Linked DNA regions of Homo sapiens. The protein of the gene in region 1 interacts with the protein of each later gene in a biochemical or structural test. Each region holds a gene or a part of one and is shown on either strand. Other genes may lie near its edges. The genes, in order: CAMP and F10.

Region 1 (15,472 bases):
CCTCCACGGCTCTTAGCATCTCACCATCCTTGGCCACAGGCTCCTAACCTCGCCCACAAGGCAAGGGAAGGATCTGTTCCCCAGTCACCTTGGGGAAGAGAGGTTCTAAACTGAGAGATAGTGGAGGATGGATCCCCACAAGCCATGATTCTGGGGCTCCCAGAAACTGCACCCCTTTCTCAGTGCAGCCTGAGTGATGCTCCTATAATAAAACCGCCACCCGAGGAGGGCCTACTATGCACCCTTGCAGAGCTGCTTCCCTGCAGCCATGGCATCCAAGGCCTTCTCCAGTCAGCTCCCTGCTGGAGGATGGCCCACTTCTCACTGTTGTCTCCCATACAGCGAGCTTTTTCTTTGGAGGCATTGTCAAGCAGGTGCTTCTGAAACATTTGGAAAAAGACAGCATGTCACAGGGACAAAGCTGGCCCTTCCCACCCAGGGTTGTCACAGGATCTTCTCTCCTTCCAGTTCCCCACCTCCAGCCACACTTCTTTGTCTAACTCAGCATTGTCCAATAGAACTTTCTGTGATCAAGGAAATGTTCTATATCTGAGACATCCACTGTAACTGACTGTTGAGCAATTGAAATGGGGGTAGTGTGACAGAATAATTGTTTTTTGTTGTTGTTATTTATTTACTTATTTTTTGAGACGGAGTCTCTCTCTGTCACCCAGGCTGAAGTGCAGTGGCACGATCTCGGCTCACTGCAACCTCCGCCTCCTGGGTTCAAGAGATTCTCCTGCCTCAGCCTCCCAAGTAGCTGGGATTATAGGCATGCACCACCACACCCAGCTAATTTTTGTATTTTTAGTAGAGATGGGGTTTCACCATGTTGGTCAGGCTGGTCTTGAACTCCTGACCTCAGATGATCCACCTGCCTCGGCCTCCCAAATTGCTGGGATTACAGACGTGAGCCACTGTGCCCAGCCGCCTTTTTAATTTTAATTAAGTTCAATTAATTTGAATTGAAATTGAATTGCCACTTGTGCTTATGGCTACCATACTGGCTAATGCATTCAAGTAGAAGTGAGCAAGTTCTGATGAACAGGGAGCAGTGAGAGGGAACCTGGTCAGGGCTCAGGTCAGGGAGGAGCCAAAGAAGGAGGAAGCAAAGAGTCCATCGGAGTGAATATGAGGGTCACTAAGCAGGGGGTGAACAGCAGGAGGCCTGGCACACAGTCTCTGGCCACTGGAGGCACAGGAGTGCTGGAGCTGCACAGGGTTTATGGATTGCTGACAAGGAGACAGGCTGGGAGCTGGGGAAGCGCTAAGGACACGGTCACCTGGCAAGAAGCTCAAGGCCTTGTCTTCCTCATTGGTGGCAATGTAGGGTTGAGAAAACTGGATTGTGCAATGGGCCCCTGGCTCTGGGTTGGTATTCCTGGACAAGACAGCATGTGATTACCTACAAGTGCCTTGGCCTTTCCCAGGAGAAACCATGCTGTGGTTTGACCGTCCCTCTCCCCTGCAAAGGACGACAGCGGGTTCCTCTGAGTGGTATATCCAATATCCAGGTCTTTCCTTTATGGCTGGGCAGAGCCTCCACCCCCGGACACCATGTCCCAGGCCCTTCTTATGAATCAGTCTAGGAAACAAAGGCACATTTACTGGAAACTGCCTATCACTATCCCGTGCTGTGTAGTGTTTCATTTGACAAATGATTTCTGAACTTGGGTCTGGACCTGCTGGGAGCGGCTCTTACCCATCTGGGCCCTCTGAGGGCAGAGCCCAATGCCGATTCTGAGAGGGGCCCAGTGAGGAAAGGAATCCTGACCTTAGGGAGTCTGTGGGCTGAAGGGAATGCAGGGGCTTGCCCTTGGGAGTCCCTGTCTGAGGGACAGACAAGACTGTCACACTTGGGAAGCCCTTGGCCTGGGAAGGAGATGCAGCCCCATAATCAGGAGCCTGGACAGAAGGAGAACTTGGGGAAGCCTTGTCTAAGGGGCATCCCAGGGCTTCATGACTCTTGTCTGAGGACAACTGTGGTCTTACCCCTGGGACTAGCCTGATGGATAAACACAGCCTGAGACTAAAGGTGGGGTTGGTGAGCTGTCTCCTAGCCTGGTGTTGGTGGGGGACGCATCACAGAGGATGCCAACTGGGGGCTGAAATCCAGGGGACAACCTGGAGAGGCTGAGTCTGAGCCAAAATATGACAGGGGCCTGGGGTAGTAGGTTATGTTATTAGCAAGAAGGGGAGCACAGTTCCCCAACAAGATACATATGCACAGTTTCATGCGTGCATATGTATCTTGTTGGGGAAGAGTTGGGCTAAGGCCATTGCCAAGTAAGGAGACCTGACCCTGACCTCACTTGCCAAAACATCCCGGGAGTACAGGACTTGACAGTGGACATGCACTTGCTTACTCACTGTTGCATTTGAACAAACACTGCAGGGCATCTCATTCCCATCCTACAAATATGAGAACATTATCAAGAAAACAAGGCAACTTGCTCGAAGTCACACAGCTAGTAATCGACGGTGCTTGAGACCCTCCACCCCAGGTCTCTTGGCAATACAATTCTGCAAGTGAAAGAAAGGCAGAAGGAGGAACTTGTCCTGAGTCTGGGCAGAACCTGTGATTGGCATTCCCTGTCTGCCACAGGGTATAAGCATACCCTGCCCCATGCCCCAGGTTTAGGGAAGGAAACGTCTGCCTTTGAGTATATATTCAATACATTGCTCCAATGCATTGCTGTCTACAAGGTTGGGGCTACTGTCCCAATTTTTGCACGAGAAAGGTTCAGGGAGGGAGGCAATTTACCAGAAGTTAGCTCTTGGCCTGAGTCACCCCAATTTTCTATTTTTGAGTCAGGGTCTTGCTCTGTTGCCCTGACTGGATACAGTGGCATGATCACAGCTCACGGTAGCCTCCATCTTCTGGGCTCAAGCAATCCTCCCACCTTAGCCTCCCAAGTAGCTGGGACCACAGGTGCACACCACCATGCCCAGCTAATTTTAAAATTTTTTTGTAGAGACAGGGCCTCGCTCTGTTGCCCAGGCTGGTCTCGAACTCCTGTCCTGAAGCACCATGCTTGGCCAACAAAGTTACTATCTCTGGGAGCACACTATGTTTACTTCTGAAGCATTAACCTAACAGGTCACATTAATAACAACAAAAACAATTCACATGTACTGGCCACAGACCATGTTGTATTTGACCCTCACAACAATTCTACAAACTAGACATTGTGATGATCATCCCTGTTCTACAGATGAGGAGGCAGGAGAGCAGACACATCGGTATGCAGATACACAGCTGGTCGCAGCAGGGCTGAGCCAGGAACCCAGTCAGCCTCATGAGGGAACCTGGGCTCTTTGCCTGCAAAGCCCTGGGCTTTCTGTGCTGACTATAGATTCTGGGCACAGGGAGGGACAGGGACAGTGACTCACCCACAGAGACAGAGGCTGGTGACGAATATGGTTCCTGGGATTCCCATCCCAGGACTCCCTCCCCAGTGCTCCCCAAGGGGATGAACAAACTGCCTGCTTGGTTCTCTACTTTTCAGACAAGTTGGCCATTCTGATGAAGGCTGTCTCAGGGGCAAGCAGGCCTGAGGAGGTGGGTGCTTCCACCAGGACAACCAGGGCTGCAGACACGGAGCCAGAGAGGGAACGCAGAGTGGGGGCTAAGCTGGGCTTTGTTCGCCAATGGGGGAGGGATTGTGGAGTGGGAGAGGGTAGCTCCAGCATCTGCTCATCTGTGGAAAGTCTCTCAGAGCCTTCAGCAGTCCCAGTGCACCAGGTTCCCTGATCACATTGTGTAGGAGTTGGAGCCTCCTGGGTCTGCAGGAGAGGAAGGGGCCACTTAGAGAAGTCAGGGTGGGAGATTCAGAGAGAGAGAGGAAAGAGAGAGAGATAGAGAGACAGAGGGACAGGGGCTGCCCAGGCCTTTGTGAAGGGACATTTATCTAGCCCTCAAGTCTTGATGTGGAAAAGCCTAACTTTTTTTTTTTTTTTGAGACGGAGTCTTACACTCTTGCCCAGGCTGGAGTGCAGTGGCGCCATCTCAGCTCACTGCAAGCTCCGCCTCCTGGGTTCACACCATTCTCCTGCCTCAGCCTCCCAAGTAGCTGGGACTACAGGCGCATGCCACCACACCCAGCTAGAGACGGGGTTTCACTGTGTTAGCCAGGATGGTCTCAATCTCCTGACCTCATGATCAGGCCACCTCGGCCTTCCAAAGTGCTGGGATTACGGGCGTGAGCCACCGCGCCCGGCTAAGCCTCACTTTTCTTTTCTCATTCCGCCTTGCCTAGAATCTTCTGATCACTCTATTAATGGGGTGAGCCATTATGAAAAAGGCGAGCTGGTGAGAGCCTCCTTTCTCCCTCTCTAGGAGGAAGGGGCAGCCATGGGTTCTAAAGGTCTGAAGTCAGCCGCCCTACCTCAGGTAGTGGACACCGACCTGCATGTGCCGAGGGCAGGACTCACTCCTGGAACCTGGGAAGCCTGGACCTTGTGCGATGGCCCTGAGAGGGAAAGCAAGTGCCCCTGAGTCCAGACTTCTGCAGTTGTATCAGAGGGCCTATGCAAGCTGCTTGGGCTCTGGCTGATTTCATGTGAGGGCGTGTCCAGCACTGGCCGAAGTGGAACGTCCTCTTGAGGCAGTTGGAAAGGGGCTCTGAATATGCCAGATCTGACCTAGAGGAACACAGGAGCATGCAGCTCTCACGCCCTAGCCTAAGGACTAACATTGCCATCTGCTTCTCCCCGGTTTGGCTTCTTGGGGATCCTGAAGCCAGTCAGAAGGGTGGAGGAAGCAGGAGAGCCCTGAGAGGTCTGATATCCCTGGATGGCCCTTTTCCCAACAGCCATAAAAGACCTGATGTGCAAGCCCTGCTTGACCAACAGGCCACTGGGGCAACACTTGAACTGTGAAACCAGGTTGCACAGAAGCCCACTTCTTCCTTCTCTCAAGGCCAGGTGTGCAACCGGTGGCCTTCGTCCAGGCTTCCACCTTCCAGGAGCCCTGCTGTCCAAGCCCCCAAGTGTCCCACAGGCCAACTGAGGTCAAGAGGTACCCCAGGCCTCAGGGCCACATGGCCAGTCCACAGAGGAGCTGGGACCGGAATTTGCCTCATGGACGCTGGACCCCTCTATCACTTTGGCCCTTTATCTCTCCTGGCTGTGATCTCTCCCTCTCCCAACACCAGCCACCCATCCCAGCTTGGTGTCTCAGCTAGAGCACCAAACAGGGAGTAATTTGAGGTCGAATCAGGAGAGACTTCCTGGAAGATGTAGGGGCAAAGAGGAGATTGCTGTGCCTGGTTGGAGGTCAGGGAAAGCTTCATGAGGTGAAAGGGCAGGCCAAACAGAAGGATCGGGGCAGAGCTGGGAGAAAGAGCAGGAGGCTCAGATGAGCCTATGTGATGGGGGCATACGTGACAGTCTGGCACTTGCAGTGTGCAGGGCTGGGGTGAGGGCAGTGGGAACCAAAAGGCCACAGGCCCTGATGCCAGCCTAGGGGGTGTGTGGGCTCCTGAAGGTAGAGGGTTGAAATGGCCAAATTGGTGGTTTAAAGGAACCCCTGGACAACGGTGTGGAGGGTGGACTGTGGTCTGGGGAGAGCCTGAAACCTAGAGAAGGTGGAGTCTGGAGGCTGGGGCAGCATTGCATGGGAGAGAAGATGGCGGCAGGAGCCAGGCAGGGGTGGAAGGAGAGGCCAGAGGGGAGTGCTTTCGGGAGGAAGGAGCCAAAGGTGCTTCAGGGCTCATGCAGTGGGCACTCAGCAGAAGAGCAGTCAAGGAGGCCCAGTGGGGACAACCGGGACGTTCATGGGAGTCTCGAACTCAGAGATACAGACTGGGTGGTGTCTGCCTATTATAACTGGTGTCCTGGGAGAGGGCGTCCCCAGGGAAACCCGAGGCCAGGGAAGAGAAGCAGCCCAGGAGGTGACCCCACACGCTCTCAATATTAAGAAGACAGCCCTTAGGGGAGACCAAGAAGGAGCCACCAGGGAGGCAGGAGGGACAGCAGGAGAGTGGCATCAGGGGAGACCGGGGCAGCAAGAAGGAAGGCTCACCAGTGCCTGTGCAGACAAAGACCAGGCTTGAGGGTGGCCATGGACCAAGGGTGGGTTGGCCAGCCTTCAGTGGCCTTCAGCATGAAGAAGAGTGAAAAGATGGGGTCAAGAAGCGTAGACAACCTTTCCTAAGACTTGGCTTGGGAGAAGCCATGGTGAAAGGCCATGTCTGGAGGGGCTTGGGAACATTTTGAGACTGAAAAAAACAGTGAAGAAGGATGCAGAAGGGGATAGATGGAGCAGAGCCTTCGTCTGGCTGACGGCTGGGTCCAGAGAGCATGTGGTATGGCCTTGAACTGAAAGGGCAACTTGTCCCTTGCAAGAGTGAGTCTCTAGGTTGGGGGTGGCTACTGTCTTCATTTACCAGTTCTTTTTTTTTTTTTTCATACTGAGTCTCACTCTGTTACCCAGGCTGGAGTGCAGTGGCATGATCTCAGCTAACTGCAACTTCTGCTTCCCGGGTTCAATGGGTTCAAGTGATTCTCATGCCTCAGCTTGTAGCTGGGACTACAGGTGTGAGCCATCATGCGTGGCTAATTTTCATATTTTTAGTAGAGATGGGGTTTCACCATGTTGGCCAAGCTTGTCTCGAACTCCTTATCTCAGGTGATCCGCCCACCTTGGCCTCCCAAAGTGCTGGGATTATAGGCGTGAGCCACCGTGCCCTGCCTCATTCATCAATTCTTAATCGATGCCTACAGGGTGCCAGGCAATGCCTAGAGCTGGAGATTTAGCAGTCCATCATACTGACTCCTGAGGAGTAGAAGGATGTAGAATAGGCACCTGGCTCTCTTCCTCTCTGGAGGGATTTAACGCTCTTGAGCACCCCTGGCTATGACAATCTCCGGTCAGGTCTGGGAGGTTGTCAGAGATGAAGAAACCACTTCCTCATCTTGCACACAAGGAAGGCCTCACTCACTGCCCAGCAAGTCCTGTGAAGCAATAGCCAGGGGCTAAAGCAAACCCCAGCCCACACCCTGGCAGGCAGCCAGGGATGGGTGGATCAGGAAGGCTCCTGGTTGGGCTTTTGCATCAGGCTCAGGCTGGGCATAAAGGAGGCTCCTGTGGGCTAGAGGGAGGCAGACATGGGGACCATGAAGACCCAAAGGGATGGCCACTCCCTGGGGCGGTGGTCACTGGTGCTCCTGCTGCTGGGCCTGGTGATGCCTCTGGCCATCATTGCCCAGGTCCTCAGCTACAAGGAAGCTGTGCTTCGTGCTATAGATGGCATCAACCAGCGGTCCTCGGATGCTAACCTCTACCGCCTCCTGGACCTGGACCCCAGGCCCACGATGGTGAGCTTTGGGGGACATTCTGCTCTGCTCTGGCTGGGCTTGGCCACGTGTTGTTCCTTCTGCTCCTGCTGCACTGCCTGCCAGGAGGGCATCTCCCCCTTTAAATGTGGTCCCGTGTTTTCCAGGGAACCTTCTAGAGCTCGTGTCTCCTCCCAGCTCGAGAGCTTCCTGCCTTATAATTCCTGCTGTGGCAGAGATACCCTCACCCCGACCCCACGCAGGTTTTGGGACTTCTGCGAGCTCCAGGCACTAGAATGGGGTCATTGGCTCTGGGCAGTGACCTCCTCTGCTTTAAGTCTCTTCTGTACCACGTTACCCCACATAGGGAAGAACTCTATCCAGACTTTAGGTTCCAGTGGGCATGTCTTGTCCCCCAGGAAGCCCCCTGACTTCCCTTGCCCCCACCCCAGAGTGGGAGGGGCTCCTTGTTAGAGCTCATCTGAGGTCTGCTCCTACTCACTGTTCACCTAGGAGGGTAGGAATGGCTCAGTCCTCCTCCCCTCAATGCCCCAGTGCCAAGCCCAGCACCCAGTGCCCGTCGCACATCAGGTACTGTGGAAAGCCTGCCCTCTTGGTGGGGAGGTCATGGACACAAATCAGAAAATACAAGAATGGGCCTCCCCATTTCCTCCTCTGACTAGGATGGGGACCCAGACACGCCAAAGCCTGTGAGCTTCACAGTGAAGGAGACAGTGTGCCCCAGGACGACACAGCAGTCACCAGAGGATTGTGACTTCAAGAAGGACGGGGTGAGGCTGGGGGCTGGGGGTGTTGGTGGGTGCCTCCCAAGGAGCTGAACAGGGGGCACCTGGGGAATATTTCCCACTGGGATGTGGCTGGGAGGTCATGGCAAATGGTTTCAAGTTTGACCTTGAGCTTCTCCTTTCCAGCTGGTGAAGCGGTGTATGGGGACAGTGACCCTCAACCAGGCCAGGGGCTCCTTTGACATCAGTTGTGATAAGGTGAGTGGGCTGTTCTGGGATGCAGGGGCTGATGGGGGCATAGAGTGTGGACCATCCAATGGGTCAATTAACTACTCCCCCAACCCAGGACAGAGAAAGCCCCTCCTACCCAGGGCTCTTCCCCAAACCTGAGTTCCATCTCCAGGGCCGGCTCTGGAATCCCTTAGAGCGGTAGATCTCCAAGTGTAGCCCTTCCTGGGGACTCGTTAGATATGCAAATTCTCAGGCCCTACTCAGACCTACTCAGACAGACTCTGGGTAGGGCCCAGAAATTCGTATTTTGATAAGCTTTCCAGGAGATTCCGGCTTCTGTAAAGTTTGAGAGCCACTGTCTAAGAGTACTCAGCTCTCAGCCCTGTGTTCCCATCTCAGTGTTGCTGGGCTGGGCTGTGTGACCCTGCAGAGCCCCTCACTATCTCCGGGACTCTGTTTTCTCATCTTTTTATTGGGTGTAGGGATTCAATCACATGCTTCAAAGGTCACAGCCAGAGGTTGAACTGGGGCCCCAAAGCTCCTGCGGGGGCCCACGAAGAGGGGCGTCTAGGTGGGGAGGGGTCTTGGATTGACCCTGGGTACATCCCCGACAAGGAACCTGTTTCTTCCTGTACACAACCCCAGGATAACAAGAGATTTGCCCTGCTGGGTGATTTCTTCCGGAAATCTAAAGAGAAGATTGGCAAAGAGTTTAAAAGAATTGTCCAGAGAATCAAGGATTTTTTGCGGAATCTTGTACCCAGGACAGAGTCCTAGTGTGTGCCCTACCCTGGCTCAGGCTTCTGGGCTCTGAGAAATAAACTATGAGAGCAATTTCCTCAGGCTTCAGTCTCACTTGTTTTGCCTCCTCTCTCTCACCACAACTGAGCCCTTAGCTCAGGGAGTCCACGTGTGAGTGTGAGTGTGTGTGAGTGTGACACAGAGGTGGCGAGGGCAGTGTTCCATCCAGGAGGACACAGGGTAAGGCAGTAGGGCCAAGAGATCCAAGATGGCATTCCCATTCTCAGTGGAACCCCCAGTGGGGAATTAAGGAGCTCTACTCTGTGTGTGGTGGTGGGGGAATGCTGTGGAGCTGTTCCTGCTCATGGGGAGGTGACATTCAAGGGAGGGGCCAAGCGTGTTGTTAACACTCAGAGAAGCATGGTCCAGTCCCATGGGTGGCTGGCCAACTGGGTGCGGTCTCCCTGCAGGTACAATTCCCATAAAATTCCAATGCTTCCTAAAAGACTTAACTCAGGAAAGCCCATAACTCCTGGCATTTCCTCTGGCATTGGGACACATCACAGTTTCTTCAGGTGGGTAGCAGATTTAACTTGTGAGCTTGTGTTTAGGGATTGTTAAAAACAAGAATATGGCCAGACGTGGTGGCTCACACCTGTAATGCCAGGACTTTGGGAAGCGAGGCGGGTGGATTGCTTGAGGTCAAGAGTTTGAGACCAGCCTGGGCAACATAACAAACCCTGTCTCTACTAAAAATACAAAAATGAGCTGGGCATGGTGGTGCGTGCCTGTAGTCCCAGCTACTCGGGAGGCTGAGGTGGGAGGATTGCTTGAGCCTGGAAGGCAGAGGTTGCAGTGAGCTGAGATTGCGCCACTGCACTCCAGCCTGGGTGACAGGGTGAAACAAAGGTGACTGGGCTCATAAAAACCAAAAACCTGCCAGGCGTGGTGGCTCATGCCTGTAATCCCAGCACTTTAGGAGGCTGAGGCTGGTTGATCACCTGAGGTTGGGAGTTTGAGACCAGCCTGACCAACATGGAGAAACCCTGTCTCTACTAAAGTGGCAAAAATTAGCCAGGCATGGTGGCACATGCCTGTAATCCCAGCTACTTGGAAAGGCTGAGGCAGGAGAATCGCCTGAACAGGAGGCGGAGGTTGTGGTGAGCCAAGATCGTGCCACTGCACTCCAGCTGGGCAACAAGAGCGAAACTCCATCTCAAAAAAATAAAATAAAATAAAATAAAAACCAAAGACCAAGAATATGTTGGGTGTGGTGGTGCACACCTGTAATCCCAGGTACTTGGGAGGCTCAGGTGGGAGGGTCACTTGAGCCCAGGAGTTCAAGGCTGCAGTGAGCTATGATCATGCTAGTTCACTCCAGCCTGGGCAAAGGAGTGAGACCTCGTCTCTAAAACAAGCAAACAAACAAAAAAAGGAGAATCCTGCTCAGTGGAGTGAGGTGCTGTGGCTAGAAGAGACATGCAGAGTGTGACACACAGGTCGCGACTCTGTTGTGCTGGTGTTTCAGACATGGATCGTGTTCTCCCCACTCACCATTCTGTAGCCACTAGAAGCACCTGCAGCTTTTTGCTATGGGGTTGCTCAACTGGAAGTACTGGGAAGTCTATGCGCCAGGGAGCAGCCTCAACCAATGATAGGTGGGAGCTGGTGGAAAAATATTTGTTCTTCTCACCCGTGGGGGGCACACTCAGAGGTGTGTTTCACATCTCCCAGAGGTCCCCAGGTGGGCTACCCTCAACAAAGACCTGTTCATGACCACATCCTCTTCTGACTTGTTCGTTCCCTGTCTCACTTCTCTACACTCCTGCAGGTGCTTTCTGTAGTTGCTTCCCAAATACACTACTCTCACTTAAATCCTTAACTCAGGTCTGCTTCCAGGCCAACCTAAACTAAGACACAGGCATCCCTCTCTGAGAGGAAGAGAAGGCAAAACCTCACAAGAACACTTGCTTTGTTTTCTGTTATGCTTGCTTCTTCTTTTCTTTTTTGAGATGGGGTCTCACTATGTTACCCAGGCTGGTCTTGAATTCCTGAGCTCAAGCGATCTTCTTGCCTCAATTCCCAAAGCGTGAGCCACTGTGCCCTGCCCATGCTTGCTTCTTCATGACGAGCAGGTGTGGCTGATTTCAAGCAGGTTGGAGGAGGTAGATGCTTCTCACTCTGTATCATTACAGAGTGCTAGAGAGAGTTCTAGGGAGGAAACTCAGGGGCATATGCTGTGTCAGAGCCAATTGTTAAATTTTCAGGAATTTTTTTTTTTGAGACGGAGTCTCTCTCTGTCACCCAGGATGGAGTGCAGTGGCGTGATTTCGGCTCACTGCAAGCTCCGCCTCCCGGGTTCACACCATTCTCCTGCCTCAGCCTCCCGAGTAGCTGGGACTACAGGCGCCTGCCACCACTCCTGGCTAATTTTTTGTATATTTAGTAGAGACGGGGTTTCACTGTGTTAGCCAGGATGGTCTCGATCTCCTGACCTTGTGATCTGCCTGCCTTGACCTCCCAAAGTGCTGGGATTACAGGCATGAGCGACTGCGCCCGGCCTAAATTTTCAGGACTTTTTTGAGCTCGGTGTTAAATTCTTGGCGGCTTAAAATTGGCCATGGTGGGAGGCAGTATTTACACCATGGAAATCTGCAAATGCTGCAAAGCAGCATCCCCAACCCCAGCTGTCACACCACTGCCCAAACTGAGGGAGGGGTCACTCACAAGGATACCAAGAGCCTGTGCCGACTGCATCTATTTCCAGTTTCCTCCCATGATTATCCATCCTGCTACCGTGACAACCCTCTTATTACCCCTGCCCTGCCTTGCTCTTTGATAGTCTACATGGGCGTTAATGAGATGGCCCTCGTCATGAACCAGATAGATATAATCCAGGCTGGATTTTTTTTTTCAAGACGGACTCTTGCTCTGTCACCCAGGCTGGAGTGCAGTGGCGTGATCTCGGCTCGCTGCAACCTCTGCCTCCCGGGTTCAAGCAGTTCTCCTGCCTCAGCCTCCAGAGTAGCTGGGATTACAGGTGCCCGCCACGCACTCAGCTAATTTTTGTATTTTTAGTAGAGATGGGGTTTCACCATGTTGAGCAGGCTGGTCTTGAACTCCTGACCTCATGATCCGCCTGCCTCAGCCTCCCAAAGTGCTAGGATTACAGGTGTGAGCCACTGCACCTGGCCTTGGATTTTAATATTATACATTCATTGCTATTATAGTCATTTTAATCTTCTGATTTCATTTTATTTATTTATTTATTTTTTGAGATGGGGTCTCACTCTGTTACCCAGGCTGGAGTGCAGTGGCAGGATCTTGGCTCACTGCAACCTCCACCTCCCAGGCTCATGCAATCCTCCCACTTCAGCCTCCCGAGTAGCCAGAACCACAGGTGTGCACTACCACGCCCGGCTTATTTTTTGTATTTTTAGTAGAGACAAGGTTTCACCATGTTGCCCAGGCTGGTCTCAAACTCCTGAGTTCAAGTGATCTACCCACCTCGGCCTCCCAAAGTGCTGGGATTACAGGCGTGAGCTACCACGCCCGGCCCAGTATCTTGATTTTTAGCATGCAGACTAGTTTTACCTGATTTTGAACTTTATTTATTTTATTTTTTATTTTTATTTTTTATTTTTTTTTGAGATGGAGTTTCACTCTTGTTGCCCATGCTGGAGTGTAATGGGGCGATCTCGGCTCACTGCAACCTCCGCCTCTTGGGTTCAAGTGATTCTCCCGCCTCAGCCTCCCGAGTAGCTAGGATTACAGGCATGCACCACCACGCTGGCTAATTTTTTTTTTTTTTTTTGAGACAGAGTCTCGCTCTGTTGCCCAGGCTGGAGTGCAGTGGTGCAGTGTGGGCTTACTGCAACCTCAGCCTCCCAGGTTCAAGCAATTCTCCTGCCTCAGTCTCCAAAGTAGCTGGGACTACAGGCGCGTGCCATCACACCTGGCTAATTTTTTGCATTTTTAGTAGAGACAGAGTTTCATCGTATTAGCCAGGATGGTCTTGATCTCCTGACCTCATGATCCACCCACCTTGACCTCTCAAAGTGCTGGGATTACAGGTGTGAGCCGCCGTTCCCGACCTAATTTTGTATTTTTAGTGGAGACGGGGTTTCTCCATGTTGGTCAGGCTGGTCTTGAACTCATGACTTTGGGTGAACCGCCCGCCTTGGCCTCCCAAAGTGCTGTGATTACAAGCGTGAGCCACAACGCCCAGACTTGATTTTGAACTTTAAATAAGTGGAATGATATGATACATATTCTTTTTCCTGGCTTCTCTCTCTTCATATTATGTTGGTGAGATCACCTCTGTTGATGATGTGAGGTAGAGATCAAGTTTCTTTTTTTCTTTTTTCATACGGATATCTAATTGACCCAGCACCTTTTATTGAAATAATTATTTCCCAACCCCGACATATTTTTTTTTTTTTTTGAGATGGAGTCTCGCACTCTCGCCCAGGCTGGAGTGCAGTGGCGCCATCTCGGCTCACTGCAAGCTCCGCCTCCTGGGTTCACGCCCTTCTCCTGCCTCAGCCTCCTGAGTAGCTGGGACTACAGGTGCCTGCCACCACACCCAGATGATTTTTTGTATTTTTAGTAGAGATGAGGTTTCACTGTGTTAACCAGGATGGAAATCTCCTGACCTCGTGATCTACCCGCCTCTGCCTCCCAAAGTGCTGGGATTACAGGCATGAGCCACCGCGCCCAGCCTGACATATTTTTTAAATACTGTTCTATTTTCTGATTATAAAATCAAGACACATGCCAAGCATGGTAATATGTGTTTGTAGTCCCAGCTACTTGGGAGGCTGAGGCAGGAAGATCACTTGAGCTCGGGAGTTTTAGAACAGCCTGGGTAACATAGCGAGACCCCCATCTCTAAAAAATTTTTTTAAAAATTAAGACACATTAAAAAGCCTTGACAATCCTGAGCATTGATAAAGTTGTGGAGGGTGGAGCCATCCTGGGGAGCCATTTGGAAGTACCTAATAAATATGAATATATGTACACCTGTGAACCAGCCATTCTGCCCCTTGGTCTACAGCATAGAGCAGCTGTTCTCCAGGTATTGTCTGGGAACCCCTGGGGGCAACGTGAGACTTTCAGTGGGTCTGTGAGGTAAGATATATTTTTTTCTCTCTCTAAATAGCTCTTAAGTGGAGTTTTGGAGACTATGTGGTATCTGATATCTTTGGGGAACAGCTTCAACACAACATCCTGGTGACCTTGCACATATCCACATAGGCCATGCAGGCAAGTTTTGAACCACATTTTTTTTTTCTTTTTGAGATGGAATCTTGCTCTGTGGCCCAGGTTGGAGTGCTGTGGCATGGTCTCAGCTCACTGCAACCTCTGCCTCCCAGGTTCAAGTGATTCTCCTGCCTCAGCCTCCCAAGTAGCTGGGATTACAGGCGCCTGCCACCACGCCCAGCTGATTTTTTGTATTTTTAGTAGAGACGGAGTTTCACTATGTAAGCCAGGCTGGTCTTGAACCCTGACCTCAGGTGATCCATCCACCTCAGCCTCTCAAAGTGCTGGGATTATAGGTGTAAGCCACCACGTCCAGCTTGAACCACAGTTAATCTGAATCTTGGCAGAATTCCCTGTGGTCCTTCCTGGGACATGAGAGCCTAGAAGCTTGTGAGTAGCTGCTCCCCTAGGCCACTTCCAACTTGCCTCCCTATATCTCCTGGGAGGGTTCTGGTGAGATATGTGGCTTTCTGCCTTGGCCCTAAAGGGTTTAGTTGTATACTCTAAAGCCACTTAACCGGCTGGGCATGGTGGCTCACACCTATAATCCCAGCACTTTAGGAGGCAGAGGTGGGTGGATCACCTGAGGTCAGGAGTTCTAAACCAGCCTTGCCAACATGGCGAAACCCCACTACTAAAAATAACCTGTAATCCCAGTTATTCGGGAGGCAGAGGCAGGAGAATTGCTTGAACCTGGGAGGCAGAGTTTGCAGTGAGCCGAGATTGTGCCACTGCCCTCCAGCCTGGGAGACAGAGCAAGAGTCTGTCTCAAAAAAAAAAAAATTAATTAATTAGAAAAAAATGGCCTGGCACGATGGCTTATGCCTGTAATCCCAGCACTTTGGGAGGCCGAGGCAGGCGAATCATTTGAGGTCAGGAGTTCGAGACCAGCCTGGCCCACGTGGTGGAACCCTGTCTCTGCTAAAAATACAAAAGTTAGCCGAGCGTGGTGTCACGCGCCTGTAGTACCAGCTACTCGAAAGGTTGAGGCAGGAGAATCGTTTGAACCCTGGAGGTGGAGGTTGCAGTGAGCCGAGATCATGCCATTATGTTCCAGGCTGGGTGGCAGAACAAGACACCGTCTCAAAAAAAAATAAAGTAAATAAAATAAATAAAAATAAAACCACATAACCATCACAGACACTTAAAACCAACAGTAAGTGCAAAACTATGCCTACTGGTGCATGCATATTCCCTGATCTCTCTATTGTTTT
Region 2 (15,392 bases), on another chromosome or scaffold:
GTTTGGCTCTGTCCCCACCCAAATCTCATCTTGAATTGTAGTTCCCATAATCCCCATGTGTAGTGAGAGGGACCAAGTGGGAGGTAACTGAATCGTGAGGGTGGTTCCTCCATGCTGTTCTCGTGGGAGTATGTTCTCATGAGATCTGATTTTTTTTAAGAGGATTCCCCTTTTGCTCGGCTCTCATTCTTCTCCCTCCTACAGCCATGTGAAGAAGAGCACGTTTGCTTCCTTTTCTGCCATGATTGTAAGTTTACTGAGGTCTCCTTAGACATGTAGAACTGAGTCAATTAAACCTTTTTTCCTTTATAAATTACCCAGTCTCGGGTAGTTCTTCACAGCAGCGTGAGAAGGGACTAAAACAAGCTTTTTTCCCCTTCACATTCTTTAGGATTTTCTATATGCATGATCATGTCATCTTCAAATAGTGATAACTTTATTTCTTTTTCTTGACTTACTGAAGGCCTTCCTTAGAGCTAGGACTTCCAGTATAATGTTGAATTAGGAGTGTTGGGAATGGACATTCTTGTGTTGTTCCAGTCTCAGGGAGAAAACCTTCAGTTTTCACCTTTAAGTATAATATCAACTGTAGACTCTTTGTAGATGAACTTTATTATGTTCATAAAATTCCCTCCTATTCATATTCTGCTGATAGGTTTTTTATAAAATCATAAATGGATGTTAAATTTTGCCAGATTTGTTTGTTGCATCAATTGACATGATTATGTGGATGTTCTCTTTTGTTTATATGGTGGATTACATAATTATTTTTAAATATTGAGCCAGTCATGTGTGCCCCAGAAAAACTCACTTGGTCATGGTGTATTATTACTCTTTTAAAAATATATTGCTGCACCGTTTGCTAATATTTTGTTGAGGATTTTTATGTCTAGATTCATGAGAGATATTGTTACGTAGGGTGGTTTTTGTTTTCAGTATTTGTCTGGTTTTGACATCAGGGTAATGCTGGCCTAAGACAAACTAAGAAGTGTTCCCTCTTCTATGTTCTGGAAGAGTTGTATAGAATTGGTGTTCTTTTTGAAATGTTTGGTAAAATTCTACCAGTGAAACCATCTGTACCTGAACATTACTTTTTCAGAAGGTTTTAAATTAAGAATTGAATTGGCAGGTATCTCTTTCACCTTGTGTATGTTTTGGTGGCTTGTGGTATTGAAGAATAGGCTCATTTCATCCAAGTTCAAATCTCATGCAAATTTATATATGCAGAGTTGTTCAAAGTATTTTCTTATTATACATTTAACATCTACAGTTTCTGTAGTGATGTCCCCTCTCTTCCATTTCCAACATAGGTCCTTTTTCTTGTTTTTGTTTGTTTGTTTTTATTCCTGTCAGTCTTGTTTGAGTTTCATCAGCTTATTAATTTTGTCTATTATTTTTGTTTTAAATTTCTTTGATTTCTGCTTTTTCAATTTCCTTTTGGTTTATTTTTTTCTTTTTTTCTAGTTTATTAAAGTGGAAGCTTACATAAACAATTTGAGACCGTCTTTCTTTTCCCATGTGAGCATTTAATGCTATAAATTTCCCTTGAAACACTGCTTTTTTAGCTGCATCCCACAGATTTTATGTTACATATTCATTTTTGTTCAGCTCAAAATACTTTCTTACTCCCCTTAAAATTTTCTCTTTGACTCACAGATTATTTATACATGTGTGACTTAATTTCCGAGTACTTAGGGAAGTTTCCAGTTATTTTTCTGTTAGTAATTTTTACTTTAATTCCATTATGGTCAGAAAACATACTTTATGTGAGTTCAATCTTTTTATTGAGGTATGCTTTAAGACACAGGATATAGTCTACCTTGAGGAATTTTCCATATGTGGAAGGAAAGTGTACTTTGCTATTGTTGAGAATCCTATAAATGTCCATTAGATTCAGGTCAAGTGATGTCTGGAAGACTGGAGGAAAAAATGATAAACTCACAGCCAGTTGTATCATATCATACATCTAATTGTAGTCTTATTCTGCAATACACTGCGATTTACTTTTTAGGGTCGTCAAATAGCTGCTACATGCATTCTATCCATGTTTTGGAGCTACACTCAGTGGGAGAGGCAGTGTGGAATGTGATTTCTTCATCTTATCTGGAATTGGAACTTGTTGATAACCTTTAATTCAGTCGTCTCTCTCTGGAGAAGCCACTCTTAGATGATAATCTAGAAGAAATGCATGCATATGTGTTTTCCTAATAGCAATATTTAGAAATAACTTATATGGCCAAACTCTGAAAAGAGTAAATGCATCATACAATAAAATATAGCTTAGCTATAGGGTAGCTATATATAAGTAAAGAAGAGTGTTTGAGAAACGATGCTGAGTGAAACATAAACTTGGATCAGCATTATTTACTTTTACTAAAGAAAAATTCTACCAGTGGAAAAAAATATATGTATATATAAGAAGTATTTGAAAATATTTCCGAAAATTCTAAATTTTTTCTGTTAGAGACAAGCCATTTATTTGCTAACAAGTAATAAAAAGGAATTCTTAATTTAATTAAGAATTAGAGTAGACCTTGATCTTTTGCAGAAATGCAAAGATATCTGAGTCACACAACTTAGACAATTAAAATTTTCTAGATAGACGTGTCAATGTTGCGCTTTCCATTGTATTAGTGGCTGCTACATTCTCTTTCTTCAAGTTTCATGCCAGGAGTCAGAAATATTTCCTTGATGTTGTGGGAGTCTGTGAGAAACATGGTAACACATTTGATTGTCACGCTCCAACCAGCTGTGGGCGGAAGCCCATATTCCAGGGTTGCATGGAAGCTTTCATCTATGAATGTGGCCTCATCATCTTTGCTGGCCTTGTCTTGTTTGTCAACAGCTGCTGCTGTTGCTGCATGGAAACATTCAGCTATCTTCATGACAAATAGCTCAAAGTGCTCAGTGAGACCCTCTTAGAGAGATCATTTGGTCAAAGAGCTCATTATCTGCAGGTGATAACAGATAAATGTGGGACTGATGTAAGTCACTTTCAGGAACTCCTTGACAAGTTTATCAAGGCGCCTGAATATGTTCTGAGGTAGAAGACTTTCAAAAGCTTTTGTTACATAGATATCACCAATAATTTTTTGAGTTTCTTCAGTTCCAAAGAGGTTAGTTTCTGGCAGCGTCACACCCAGCACTTTTTCAAGCTCTTCTACCACACTGATTCTCCAGAAGGGTGAGGAGAAGTCAACCCATAGGTTTGGCTTTCTGAGCCATCTGGATGGTGGGTGACCTTGTAACCACCTGTGATGTGCTTCATCCCTGACATAATCTTTTCTTGGATTTCAATGAGATCATGACAGTCTGCACAGACCATATAGGGTGGCAAATCAAATACATTCTCTTATTCCTTAACTGGCATCCAATTTCATAAATCCAGTCAATGCTACTAACCAGCATCTGAAGGTAGAGTCCTGGAGCAATTCTCAAATACAAGTTAATGTCCAGCTTGTTGTAGCAGGTGATGAAAGGCTTAGCCCCTGCTACCCGGGATGACGTTCATCATGAGGGTTTCAATGTCTAGAAATCTCAACTCATCCAAAAACCTTGTCATATATGTGGTGATCTTAGGGCAGATGATACACTGCTTTCTCAGAAAGTCACTCAGGATCAAATCCAAGTACTCAAATAATATTGGGTCTCCTTGCCTTTGAGGCTAAAGTAAGGATGGGGCAACATGTGAGCCAGGAGGCAGCAGTGCAATTTTGCAGGGGCTGATGCTGCGCTCGCCCTTCTTGGTGTTTCCTAGATTTTCCTGGACTCTGAGTACGTCTCCCTGAGGCAGTTTATTTATTGACTTATAATTCCTTGACCTGGCCATAACTTGTAACTTCACCCTGGTCCGCAGGGGTCATTAGAAGGTGAACTTTCCCCAGCTCTTTTGGCATGGATCTCCAGGGTGACATCAGTCAGGTGGTCCCAGGCTGCAGGTGACTGCACTCCGGGATGAAGCAAGCGAGTAATGTCCACATGGAAGCTGCAGGGGTCTTCCCCAGTAACCTTCGGCGGTGGCCTGCGCTGGGGGACCTGTAAGGGGCCTCAAAGTTTCCATTTGGGTCCACAGTTAGTGGTGTGGCTGATGGCACCAGCCGCGGCTGGCCTAGCTGTTGCTCACTGAGCTCCGGCTTGGCCCCCTTCTCGGCTACTTTCTTCTCTTCAGCTCATTCTTGTCAGTTCGGCATCACCACCGCCCACTTCCACTTCAGAGCCCTGTCCTGCAGGCACCTTTCCTGATGCCTGGGGTGAGGAAGTCGAGACCCCTCGGCCATTTCCAGGTTCGTTCGAAGCCCCGCCTCTTCGGGGGAGAGGAGGGTAGCGTCTTCCGCGCGGGGCTGCTGCGGCTGCGCAATCGCGGCCTGGTGGCATTGCTCTCCTCCTACTGCGCAGGCGCGATGCTGGGTTCGTCGTCCGGTGTGGATGCCGGTCTTCCTGCTGCGCAGGCACCGTGCTGGGTTCGCGGCCTGGCCTCAGTGCGTGTCCTTTTGCTGCGCAGGCGCAGTGCCGGGTTCGCCGCCCGGCCTCAGTGCTAGTGCTTCTGCTGTGCAGGAGCAGTACTGGGTTCGTGGCCTGGCGTCAGTTGTGCGCCTGCGCGCTGGCGCTCTAGGCTGTGGCTCTCAGCGACTACGGAGGCCAAGGCAGGACGCGGGCTGCGGGCGTGGGAGGGCACGATCTCAGCTCACTGCAACTCGGCGAGGCGCTGGCCGAGACCATGACTATTGGTTTTTAGGTTAACATTTTATTTTTAAATAGAACTTAACTCTGGCAGAAGCCCTGTGACCCTCAAGGGACTTGGGCGCATCCCTCCCCGCTGAGTCCTCGCCGGGAAGGAGTCAGCGCGGGGGCGGCACTGATGTCCCTGTGGGCAGGACTCCGCCGAGGCCTCGATTTGCTGGGCCCCGCCCCTGAAAGCCTTCGCGCACGCTGCCCCTTCCTCCAGGCCGCCCCCCTGGATGGACGGAGCAGCGGGGCCAGCGAGGGCGCTGTGGCCTGAGCTCCTTACCAACAGCCAGGCTATCCCCAGCCCTTACCGTCTTGTCGCTGTCCTCAAAGACCTCGCGGGCCTCTTCGTATGAGCAGGTCTCTTCCATGCACTCTCTTTCGAGGTGTCCTTTCTTCATCTCTTCAAGAAAGGAATTGGCCCTCGTGACCCTCGCCAGGATGTTGTTGGCCTGCTCCCTGCGGATGAACACTGGAAGGCAGGGAGGACAGGGTTAAAAGCTCTGGTCACCCTCACCCAGGCTCCCCCTCACCTATGCTCCCTGACTGCCATGTCCCTTGCCATATCCAGATCACAAAAGGCGGATCACTCTCTTGTAAACCAAAAATAAAATTCTAAGCCCCCAACTCACTGAGTGGACCCGTCCTCTCTGCCAAGGGAATTCCATAGGAACCTGAAAGACTAGTTGAGGCCATGAGGGGAAGCAGGTCCCACACGCCTCATTATTTCTTCCTTTGGAATTCGGGCACAGCTGACCAGCATTCACGTTAAGAGACCTTGAGGCTGACCAAACAGAGTCTTTGTAGCAATAAGATACCAGTTTCCAACCTGACTTCTCTAGTATAGGATCACATGACATATAGCAGGCCCTAAAATAAATGATTTTACTCCAAATTGTATTTGTTTGACATATTTTGAAATGGCCCTGCAAAGCTATCTCAGGGAAATCCACATTCTGTAGAGAACCCCCTTACCATTCCAGGTCTTTTTCTGAGCTGAGAGTCTAGCACCTTTTTTTTTTTTTTTTTTTTTTTTTCTCTTTAAGATGGTGTTTTGCTCTGTCATCCAGGCTGGAGTGCAATGGCACAATCTCAGCTCACTGCAACATCTGCCTCCCAGGTTCAAGCCATTGTCCTGCCTCAGGAGGAGATTCTACTGTCTCAGCCTCCCGAGTAGCTGAAACTACAGGCAAGCACCACCACACCCGGCTAATTTTTGTATTTTTAGTAGAGATGGAGTTTCACCATGTTGGCCAGGCTGGTCTTGAACTCCTGACCTTAAGTGATCCACCTGCCTCAGCCTCCCAAAGTGCTGGGATTACAGGATGAGCCAAGGCGCCTGGCCATGTGTGTAGCACCTTTTAAAGGTCTGAAGAGGAAACAGTTGCCATCTATTCCCTCTAAGGGTGGCCACCTATGAGTCTTCATCTACATAACAAGAACCTTGGTCTCCACAACCTCTTATCTTAACCCAGATACTCCTTTCCATTTATTCCAGGTCTTTAGATAATAACTCTTTCAACTGATTGCCAATCAGAATATCTTTGAAGCCACCTATGACCTGGAAGCCCCCACCTTCCCCTTTTCTGGAACGAACCAGTGTACAACTTATGCTTATTGATTGGTGTCTGTATGTAACTTCTGTCCCCCTAAAATACATAAAATCAAGCTGTGACCCAACTACCTTGGACACATGTTCTCAGGACCTTCCAAGGCTGTGTCATGGGTCGTGGTCCTCACATTTGGCTCAGAATAAATCTCTTCAAATATTTTACAGAGTTTGGCTTCTTTATCAACACTTTCCTCAGGCACTTTGGGGGCTGTGGAGGGAAATGCCCATTTCCCCCCTCCCCCCAGTTCTCTATGAGGTACAGCATGAGGCACCTGCTCTAGACCCATGCACCCTTCTCTGGAGAAGTAGACACATCCCACCCAATCAGCTCACCAGCCTCCTCACATGCTCACGCTGGCTCAGCCTGGCCACCCAAGCCCCCTTCCTTGAATTCTCCCTCCCTAGGGTGCTTTCAGCCCACTGTTCTGTGCTTTGGCTCAAGCTGTGCCCCTTCAGCCTGGCCCCACTCGTCTTTAAGGTCTCTGCTCTTTGTTATGTGGGGATTGGTGATGCTGTTTCAATTACAAACTATAATAGTACAATTTATGAAGTGCCAGGACACACATACATGCCAACTTTCAAGAAATAGTATTTATTAGTATTTCCTAAAATACAGTACTTAGTACAAAGTTTTCTATTTGATTCTACTCTTTTAAAAAAAAATACTGAGTTGATTTCATGACTGGCAAATGAGTCTTGATCTGCTGGTTAAAATGCCCTGGATCCGAGAGTCTGTGTCCCTTGTAGAGTGTGTGTCTGTGGGCTGTGCTGTCCACATCTCTCTGCCTGTGTCTCCTTTGTCTCTCACCCACTCCTCCTCCTCTTTTCATTTTGACAGCCTCAGTTTCTTTTCTTGGCCCTCTGTAGTCTTTTTCTGTGCTTTTTTTCCACTGAAAAATTCAATGTCTCACTACAATAAAGATAACTCTTCCAACTGATCTCTCTAGCACTGACTTTTGTCCTGAGCTCCATGTTTTCAGCTCTCTCACTATGACAGATGCCTTCCCTCATCTCAGAACTCCAAACTCTCCATGTCCAAAATTTAAAACAAGACTGCAGAATCAAGCAATCTTGAGCTTCAAAAACACCTTAGTCACTTATTATTTATTATTGGCAGAAGGGAATTATAATATCTACTCTTAGAGCTGTTTTAAAGATTGTATAAACTCCTAGTGTTGAGTTTGGTATACAGAAGGTGCTTAGTAAATCTTGGGTTCATTCCTACCTCCAGTTACTTTACCTTCCAAATTCCCCATTTCTTTTAGTGACACCGACATTATCCCACCAACGCTAGACTTAGATTTATTATTTCTTGACCCTGCCCCATTACTCTGCGTGTCTGCTCCACTCCCACACACTTGCTCTGAAATGCAGCCCACACGTGGCTCCCTGCAACCTGCAGCCTCATGTCACCTCCACTCCACAAAAGGCACTGAGGAAGCTGAGGGGTGGGGAATGCCCATCTCCCTTGGGGCCTCTGGCTCTCATGTTGGGATGACCACAGCCTCAGACAAGTTATCCAAGCCTGGCTTAGTGTTTCCCAAACTGGGACTCGCGGGCCTCCTGGGCTCCAGTTGGGGTCTGAAGACCGCGTTCTGCCTTGCCCTCGGTGTTCTGACGCACCTCCATGTGAACACCTCTCTTGGTACCTTCTCTCTTCCCCTTGGTCTCCTTCCTTGTGGCCAGATGGACATATGCCTGCTTTTTTCTCTGCTACCCTAGAGCCACAGTGATGGTTCACAGACTTGCCACAAGGATTGGTCCCCACTCAACTGGAGCCTGACGCCCTCACTGTCTCTGGTCGATCCCTTGCGCCTCCTCTGACCTCTTAGAGGAACTCGCTGTTCTGTGATAGCGGCCACAGCTCTGTTCCCCTTGGCATCCACCCCCGAGCATCCCCAGGCTGATTGACCAGTAAGAAGTCACCTTTCCTTTGCAGCCCCTGTCCAGTTCCCGCCTTTTCCCATCTCCCTGAAGCCTGCTCAGCTCTCCCCAGCTCATGGGGGTAGGACACGGCCTATAAGGTTGAGCTGGACTGTGTGAGGAAGAGGGTACAGGTGGCAGGCACGGGGTGGAAAGGGTGATGCAAGGAAGTCAAGGACTACCCAGAATCTGCCTCTAGTGGTCTTAGAACAGAGCCCAGGGTCTTCCCATGGCCAGGCCTCCCAGGCCTCACCACCTTCAACTCTGCCCTCATTCACCTCTCTCTGCCACACTGGGCTCTGCGCTGACCCTGGCTGAGCCCAACACTCACACCCCAGGACTTTTGCACCAGTCACCTCCCTGTCTGGAACATTCTTTCCACAGATACCCAAGTGGCTCAGGCCCAGCGCCCTCCGAGACACCCTCCCTGACCACGCCCTCTGACGTTGCCCCCACTCGTGTCTCTTTCATCCCCTTACACTGTGCTATTTGTCTTCTAGCACCCAACCCCTCTCTGACATTACATGCTGACAGGCTTATCCTTCCCTCCGCTGGAAAAAGACTTGACGTGTTTGGTCACAGCTGTATGCCCGTGCCTAGCACGGCCGGAACTTAACCAATATGTGTTGAGGGAATGAAGGAAAGATGGCGTGCCTGGCTCAGCCCTCTGGACTGAATCTGGGCGCTTCTGCTATCTGTTATGGCTGAGTCGCATCAACGCTTCAGTCAGACTGAGCAGGCCGGGTCTGGGCCACGTGGCCACACTTTCTGATGTGAGTAAAATGGGATTTTGGCAAAACGAAATTAAAACAAGGTTTTTAGGCACTTGTCTCAAGAAATTAATGGAACACTCTAGAACTCTGATATGGAGCATCCAGATTGGTAGACATTTGTCGTGTGGTTTGTTTCTTCAGAAGCTGTTGGGAGCATTGCAATCCTCGAGCACACAGTTGTGTTTGTTGTTTTGGCAACATCAGTGAATTCCACAGTCAGCAACTGCATTTGAGCAAGTTTTACCAGCAAGCAAAATTTTCAGTCAGTAAGGTCCAAACTCATGAAGAATGGGTTTAAACTTGTTGAATGTAAAGATTGAAACTGAAGCCACGTAGCTTTAATGATTGCCAGTACAACAGCAGTAGTTTAAAGGCTGGCACTGCAGGTGCTCTGCGTATTCTGATTTTATTAAAATAAAAAGTTGGATTGCAGAAAACACTCACAGGTGGCAGGACAGGGCTGAATAATGTCCCTCCAAATTCATGTCTTTCCCAGAACCTCAGAACCTGACCTTAATTGGAAATAGAACTTTTGTGATGTATTTAGTTAGGAAGACATTTTATGGGAGTAGAGTGAGCCCTAAATCCAATGACTGGTGTCCTTCTGAGAGAAAAGAAGACAGAAAAACAGCCATGGTGAGAACCCCATGCGATGATGGAGGCAGCGATGGGAGCAATGCTCCCACAAGCCATGGGCTGTGAGGCCGCTGGCACCCCGAGGCCAGGAAACAGGCCTAGAGCAGACTCTCTCCCAGCCTCTGGAGGAACCAGCCCCGCTGACGCCTTGATTTTGAACTTCCAGCCTCCAGAGCTGTGGGAGAAATGTTTCTGTTGCTTTAAGCTACTTGGTCCATTGTCCTTTCTTGTAGCAGTACCAGCAAAGGAATGCTGAGGTCCCACCGCCCCAGAAGAACTTCCGTGACTGCCAGGACAGCTGTGCTCGTTTAAAGGCTAGACTGCAGATGCTGTGCGCATTCTGATTTTATTAAAATCAAAAGTGTGCACAGCAGGGTCCTGAGTGGGACCTTCTGGGACCTGTGTTCAGCCCCACCCACCCCACAGTGCAGCTGCCGAGGCCTCTGAGGCAGAGTAGGGGAGAGAGATGGCCTGGCCCTGGCTCTCCGGGGCTGGCCATGTCCACCCAGGGTCCAGGCCGGCCCCCGGGGACACCACAGGCCATGGTTATGAGCCAGGCCCGCATCACACAGCTAAGGGTGCCAATACCCTGTGGACCCAGAGGTCCGCGAGGTGGGCGCCTGCATTTCCCATTGGCAGGAAGGGAAGCTGGCGCTCCACCAGGACTCTGCATAACTCCCCTAGTTTCCTCCTGTGGGTCTGGGTGGGCTCCTGGCCTGTCTTCTCATCCCCACCCTCTGCTTCTTCCCAGGAAGAGGAGTCCTGCCAACTTCCATTCCCAATAAGCCAGAGCAGCTTCCAGAGTCCCGGGCCGGGCTTAGGGCCTCGGGAGCCCCGGGCCGGGCTTAGGGCCTCAGGATCCTAGAGCATTCCGGCTGCAGAATTTTCTACCAATTCGCGGAAGCATCTGTCTGTTTGCAGAGTAGCTTTGCTGTCGATGATGATGGCATGGGTCCTTCCAGGGCCTTGTTCCACCCACGCTGATCTCATCCCACCACAAGCATCACAGTGGGCTCCTGCAGGGGGCAGTGTGGCCTGAGGGGGAGGAAGAAGGCTGGGCGAGTTGGAGCCACACAGTACCCCATGAAGACGGGAGTCCCGTTCCGCGTGGGAGACAGGAAGATGTGGCTCAGGGGACAGAGGCTGGGGAGGGCAGGGGGTTGAGGGTGGGATGGAGAAGACCCCCGTGTGATGTGACTGGAGCTCCAAGTCACCAGGCGGAGGGGCCGTTTAGGTCAGTGATGCACTGAGGATCCACTCAGCCTTCCCAGGGGTCTCCCCTTTCCACCCCACGAGGGTCTCCCCCTGCTCCGTCTCTCCCTCACACATTCCCTTCCCAGGCCTGGGTCCCCTTGGTGCCCCTGCCTGTCCACTTTGTCCAGGATGCAAACAAGTCTAGGGTCCCTGTCTCTCGTGTCCCCACCAGAGGGGCCTCCTCTTCCTCCGCTGTCCCCAGGCTTGCCTGGCTTCTGTCCTGTCTGGGCCTCTGCTTTTGGACAGACCCGGGGGTCCTGGACAGCCCTGCTGCCCCCACCTGTCCAGCTGTGCATTAGGCAGCTCCTTCCCCGACGGAGCCAGTCCGAGAGTGGTGGCACTGGCTCGGCTCAGCCTCCTCCTCCCTGGGAGCTCCTCTGCTGTGCCCCTCGTCCTGTGCCTCCCTGTGGTGGCAGATGGCTAACTGTCCTGTCTCTGCCTGCCCCAACCCCTCCCTCTCTCTCTGTCTCCGTCTTTCTACCTCTGTCTCTGCCTCTTGGCCTCCCATCTCACTGTGTCTCCGTTTCTCCTTCCCTCTCCCTTTCTCTCTCTGACTCTGTCCTTGTGTTTTTGTCTCTGTGACCTCTGATCCGCCCGTCTGACTCTCAGCCCCAGGGAGCCACAGCTGGCCTTGAGGATGCCGTTGGCTGGAAAGGCCAAGCCCAGCCATCCGAGCCCAGCCTCTGGCAGCACTCAAGGCACCCACCGTCCAGGCTGCAGAGATGAGAGGGTTTCCCCAACTGCCGCCCCTCCCTGCTCCCTGGCGCTGCTTTTGGGTCTGAAGGGCGAGGGGCACTTACGACTTTCCCCGAGCAGCAGGAGGCCAGCCAGGGAGGCACTGAGCAGGACGAGGTGCAGTGGGCGCCCCATGGTGTGGCCGAGTACTGTGTCCCTGTCCTCACTGGGACAGGCTGCTGGAGCAAAGTCCACGCCCCAGCTGGGATGGCTGTTGTCTGGCTGCTTATCACTTGGCTTAGGCCTCCTGATTGGAGCCGAGACCTGCTGGCGAGGCAGGGGAGTGACCACGCTGGGAACACATCCACTCTGGCCCCACCTTCCCCAGGCAGAGCTGGGCGGCCAGAGAGGCCCCGCAGAACCTCATCCTCATCAGTCACCAGGGCCGCGGGTGTGGGGACTTTCTGTTCTAAGAATAAAAACATCATTTCGTGCTCATTTTGTAGTTTCCAGATGTTTACATTTAACTCTCAGTCCTCACATACAAATATCATTTTCCCCATCATTTTTCCAGAAGAGAAAACTAAGTTTAGAGAGCGCAGAAGCCTGAGCCGAGGCCGCTGGCAGTGAGCGTGGGATCTGAGCCCAGGACTTCTGCCCCAAGGCCCTGCTTGTTTCTGGGCGGGCCCTTCCGCTCACAGCCACTCTCTGGGTGGTATCAGGTGGTCTCATGTCACGGGGGGGGCTTGGCATCTGCACCATGGCCTCCCACAGGCCAGGCTGGCACCTGCCCCACCCACCCCCAAACCTTCTGTGCCCGCATGGCCCCAAAACGTACTTCTGTGGGGAGTGACCTTCCCGTGACCATCTGGAGGGACAGGCTGTGTCTGAAGCCCCTCCTGACCTGCCCACCACTGGCCACACTGTTCCGAGGCTGAGAGGGCTTCTGGGCTCGTTCTCCAGTGCAGAAACCTCCCATCACAAGGTCCTGAGTGTCTCTGCTCAATGGCTGTGGGAGTCACTGGGAGGTGCAGCCGGGCTTTTTGCCTCTGGGGTCTCTGGAATAAATGGTCTAAAGCTTGGCCAGTGTGGCGATCACTGCCTGCTATGCCGTAGTGGCCGGGGAGCAATGCCCCTAACACCCACAGCACTGGCCACTGCCTCATGGTGCATCTGCCTTGATGGGTCGCCCTGTCTCGCAGCCACCTGCACATGAGCCTGGTGTGCACACATTGTGCGTCATTGTGCCTGGCACACAGGAGGCACTCACTGAGCCCCACCCGACTGCACAAACTGATGATGCTGGATGCCAACGCCAGGCTGGCCTCCCACGGCGGGCACCACGCACAGCCTGGTCCTCTGAGAAGGGCCTTCCTGGTGGCACCAGATGTCTGACTCCTGCCTCTCCTGGTCTCCACCCTCTGACATCGCCTCTAGGCATGTTTGTATGGAGAGACCAATGCGGTGTGTGCACCAACAGCAGGATGCTCATGGCAGACACGCAGTCTTTGTCATCAATGCTGGGTGGCGATGCTGGCTTTGGTGGCCCAAGCCTGCCGCCTCATCCCACCCTGTCCCAGGCCCATGGCCAGTGGCCTCCCCGTATTCTATCTCGCCACTCACAGAAAGCTGGAGCTGAGCCGTGGCAGGTGGCACGTCCCATATGAAACATGTAGCCTTTGGGGGCGCCCAGGCCCTTCAGCGAAGCCTCTGGGGAGTCCCGGGCCCCCTCCTCCGGCAGCACCATGAGGTGGGCGCCTGCATTTCCCATTGGCAGGAAGGGAGGCTGGCGCTCCACCAGGACCCCGCATGACTCCCCTAGTTTCCTCCTGTGGGTCTGGGTGGGCTCCTGAACTGTCCTCTCATCCCCACCCTCCGCTTCTTCCCAGGAAGAGTCCTGCCAACTTCCACTCCCAAGAAGTCAGAGTGGCTTCCAGAACCCTGGGCTGGGCTTAGGCCCTCAGGAGCCCCGGGCATTCTGGTTGCAGAATTTTCTACCAATTCACTGAAGCATCTGTCTGCAGAGTGGCTTTGCTGTCGATGACCATGGCATGGGCCCTTCCAGGGCCTTGTTCCATCCATGCTGATCTCATCCCACCATAAGCATCACGGTGGGCTCCTGTTTTACACATGAGGAAACTGAGGCATGGTCACTCGGACAAAAGAGAAAGCAGAGCCAGCTCTGACCTGGATCAGGGCCCGCCACTGGCTCCCGTCCCGTTTAGGGGGCATTAGGAACCGGGGTCTGGCCAGGGTCAGCAAGCATCTTCAGCAGAGGTCCTGACACTAACCATGCTGGGCTTGGCGGGTCAGCTGGTCTGTCCGGCTGGACGTCTCTGCCACGGCCACTCCATGGACACTAATATGGGTGTGTTCCCATAAAACTTTATTTACAAGAGCAGGGTGCCTTGGAAGCAGCCCACGGCTGTAGTTCATAGACCCTGTCTGCTCTGAAGTAGATGATGCCTGAGTGCCCCCGAGGTGGGTTGCTGGTGCCTGCCTTGCTGCTGTGAGTGCCAATGGTGCCCACCTTGCTGCTGTGAGTGCCAGTGGTGCCCAGGACGGCCCTGCAGGGATGGCATCGAGTCCACTCTCTGAGCCGTGCTTGCCGGAGTCTGAGTGGGGGCACTGTTTGTCACCTCCCCATTTCTCTGTTCATGTGTTTCTCATTCTTCTTCCACCACCCTGGGGACTCAGCAAGAGTGCAGCTTGCCAGGTCCTCCCACTGCAGCCAGGGCCTGGGAACTTGCATTTAGTGATGCGTGTGTCCCTGACTCTTGAGCAGGTGCTCCCAGGGTCTCTGTGAAATATCATTGACAAGGGCTGTGGCAGGGAGAGAACATCCAATTCCACAGGATCCTGGGAGCTACAGCCTCAAACATCTATCAAACAGCTTTTGTTTTTAAAAAATAGCTTCCATGTGAGGGTTCATTTCAGTGATGTTGAAAATTGTGAAAGAAAAGAGCATCTCAGAGGATGAGCACCGGGGGCTCCAAAAATGAATCATGGGCAACCCAGTGGGTGGCAGGCACCACAGGTGTGCGGAGGAGACGCAGCCGTTTATTGTGAAGCTGGGAAGCAGGTGGGGAATAGTCTGTGCAGCCCGGCACCCAGCGAAGGGAGAAATACATTTGGGGGAGAGTTTGGGGGCATTCGCCACCATGCATGGTGATGCTTCTGAATTGTCTGAAGTGAAGATGATAATGGATAAGAACCAGAAAAGTGAGAGCTAAACAACCGCCTTCAGAGGACAGCACACATGGAGTCAGCATCGGTGTGTGTGCATCTGTGTGTGCATCTGTGTGTGTACATCGGTGTGTGTGCGCATTGGTGTGTGTGTGCTCATCCATGTGTGTGCATATCTGTGTGTGCGCACATCGGTGTGTGCATATCTCTGTGCATCCGTGTGCACTGATGTGTGCGTGCATTGGCATGTGCGTGCATCCATGTGTATATCTGTGTGTGCATCTGTGTGTGCATATCTCTATGTGCGTGTGCATCGGTGTGTTTGCGTATCTCTGTGTGACCATCTGTGTGTGCATCCGTGTGTGTGCATATCTCTGTGTGTGTGCATTGGCGTGTGTGTGTGTGCATCCATGTGTGTTCATGCCTCTACTGTCTCCAGCAATGAAGGCAGAGCAGCAGCCTGAGGCCAGCAGATCACGTGCAGGTGGGCTTGGCTGAAGGGAGGTAAGGAGGCTCAGCTGGGCTGTCTGCCTCCAGGACAACCTTGGCACTCCCCTGCCCCTCTGTCCAGCGCCTGTCTGCCTCTGCCTCTCATCTTTTCTATTCCA

The links.
Region 2: the proteins of CAMP (region 1) and F10 interact in a test that uses a peptide from one of them, tested with the Homo sapiens proteins (one study listed by BioGRID).

What each region holds. Positions count from the first base shown.
Region 1 is NC_000003.12:48,216,393-48,231,864, forward strand, and holds CAMP (cathelicidin antimicrobial peptide preproprotein), read left to right. Parts: upstream 1-7,102; 5' UTR 7,103-7,119; coding exon 7,120-7,320; intron 7,321-7,961; coding exon 7,962-8,069; intron 8,070-8,210; coding exon 8,211-8,282; intron 8,283-8,900; coding exon 8,901-9,032; 3' UTR 9,033-9,093; downstream 9,094-15,472. UniProt on the Homo sapiens protein: Antimicrobial protein that is an integral component of the innate immune system. Binds to bacterial lipopolysaccharides (LPS). Acts via neutrophil N-formyl peptide receptors to enhance the release of CXCL2.
Region 2 is NC_000013.11:113,119,257-113,134,648, reverse strand, and holds the start of F10 (coagulation factor X isoform 1 preproprotein), read right to left. Parts: upstream 11,851-15,392; 5' UTR 11,794-11,850; coding exon 11,724-11,793; intron 6,495-11,723; exon of another isoform or gene 6,224-6,494; intron 5,915-6,223; exon of another isoform or gene 5,772-5,914; intron 5,198-5,771; coding exon 5,037-5,197; intron 4,644-5,036; exon of another isoform or gene 4,603-4,643; intron 1-4,602. UniProt on the Homo sapiens protein: Factor Xa is a vitamin K-dependent glycoprotein that converts prothrombin to thrombin in the presence of factor Va, calcium and phospholipid during blood clotting.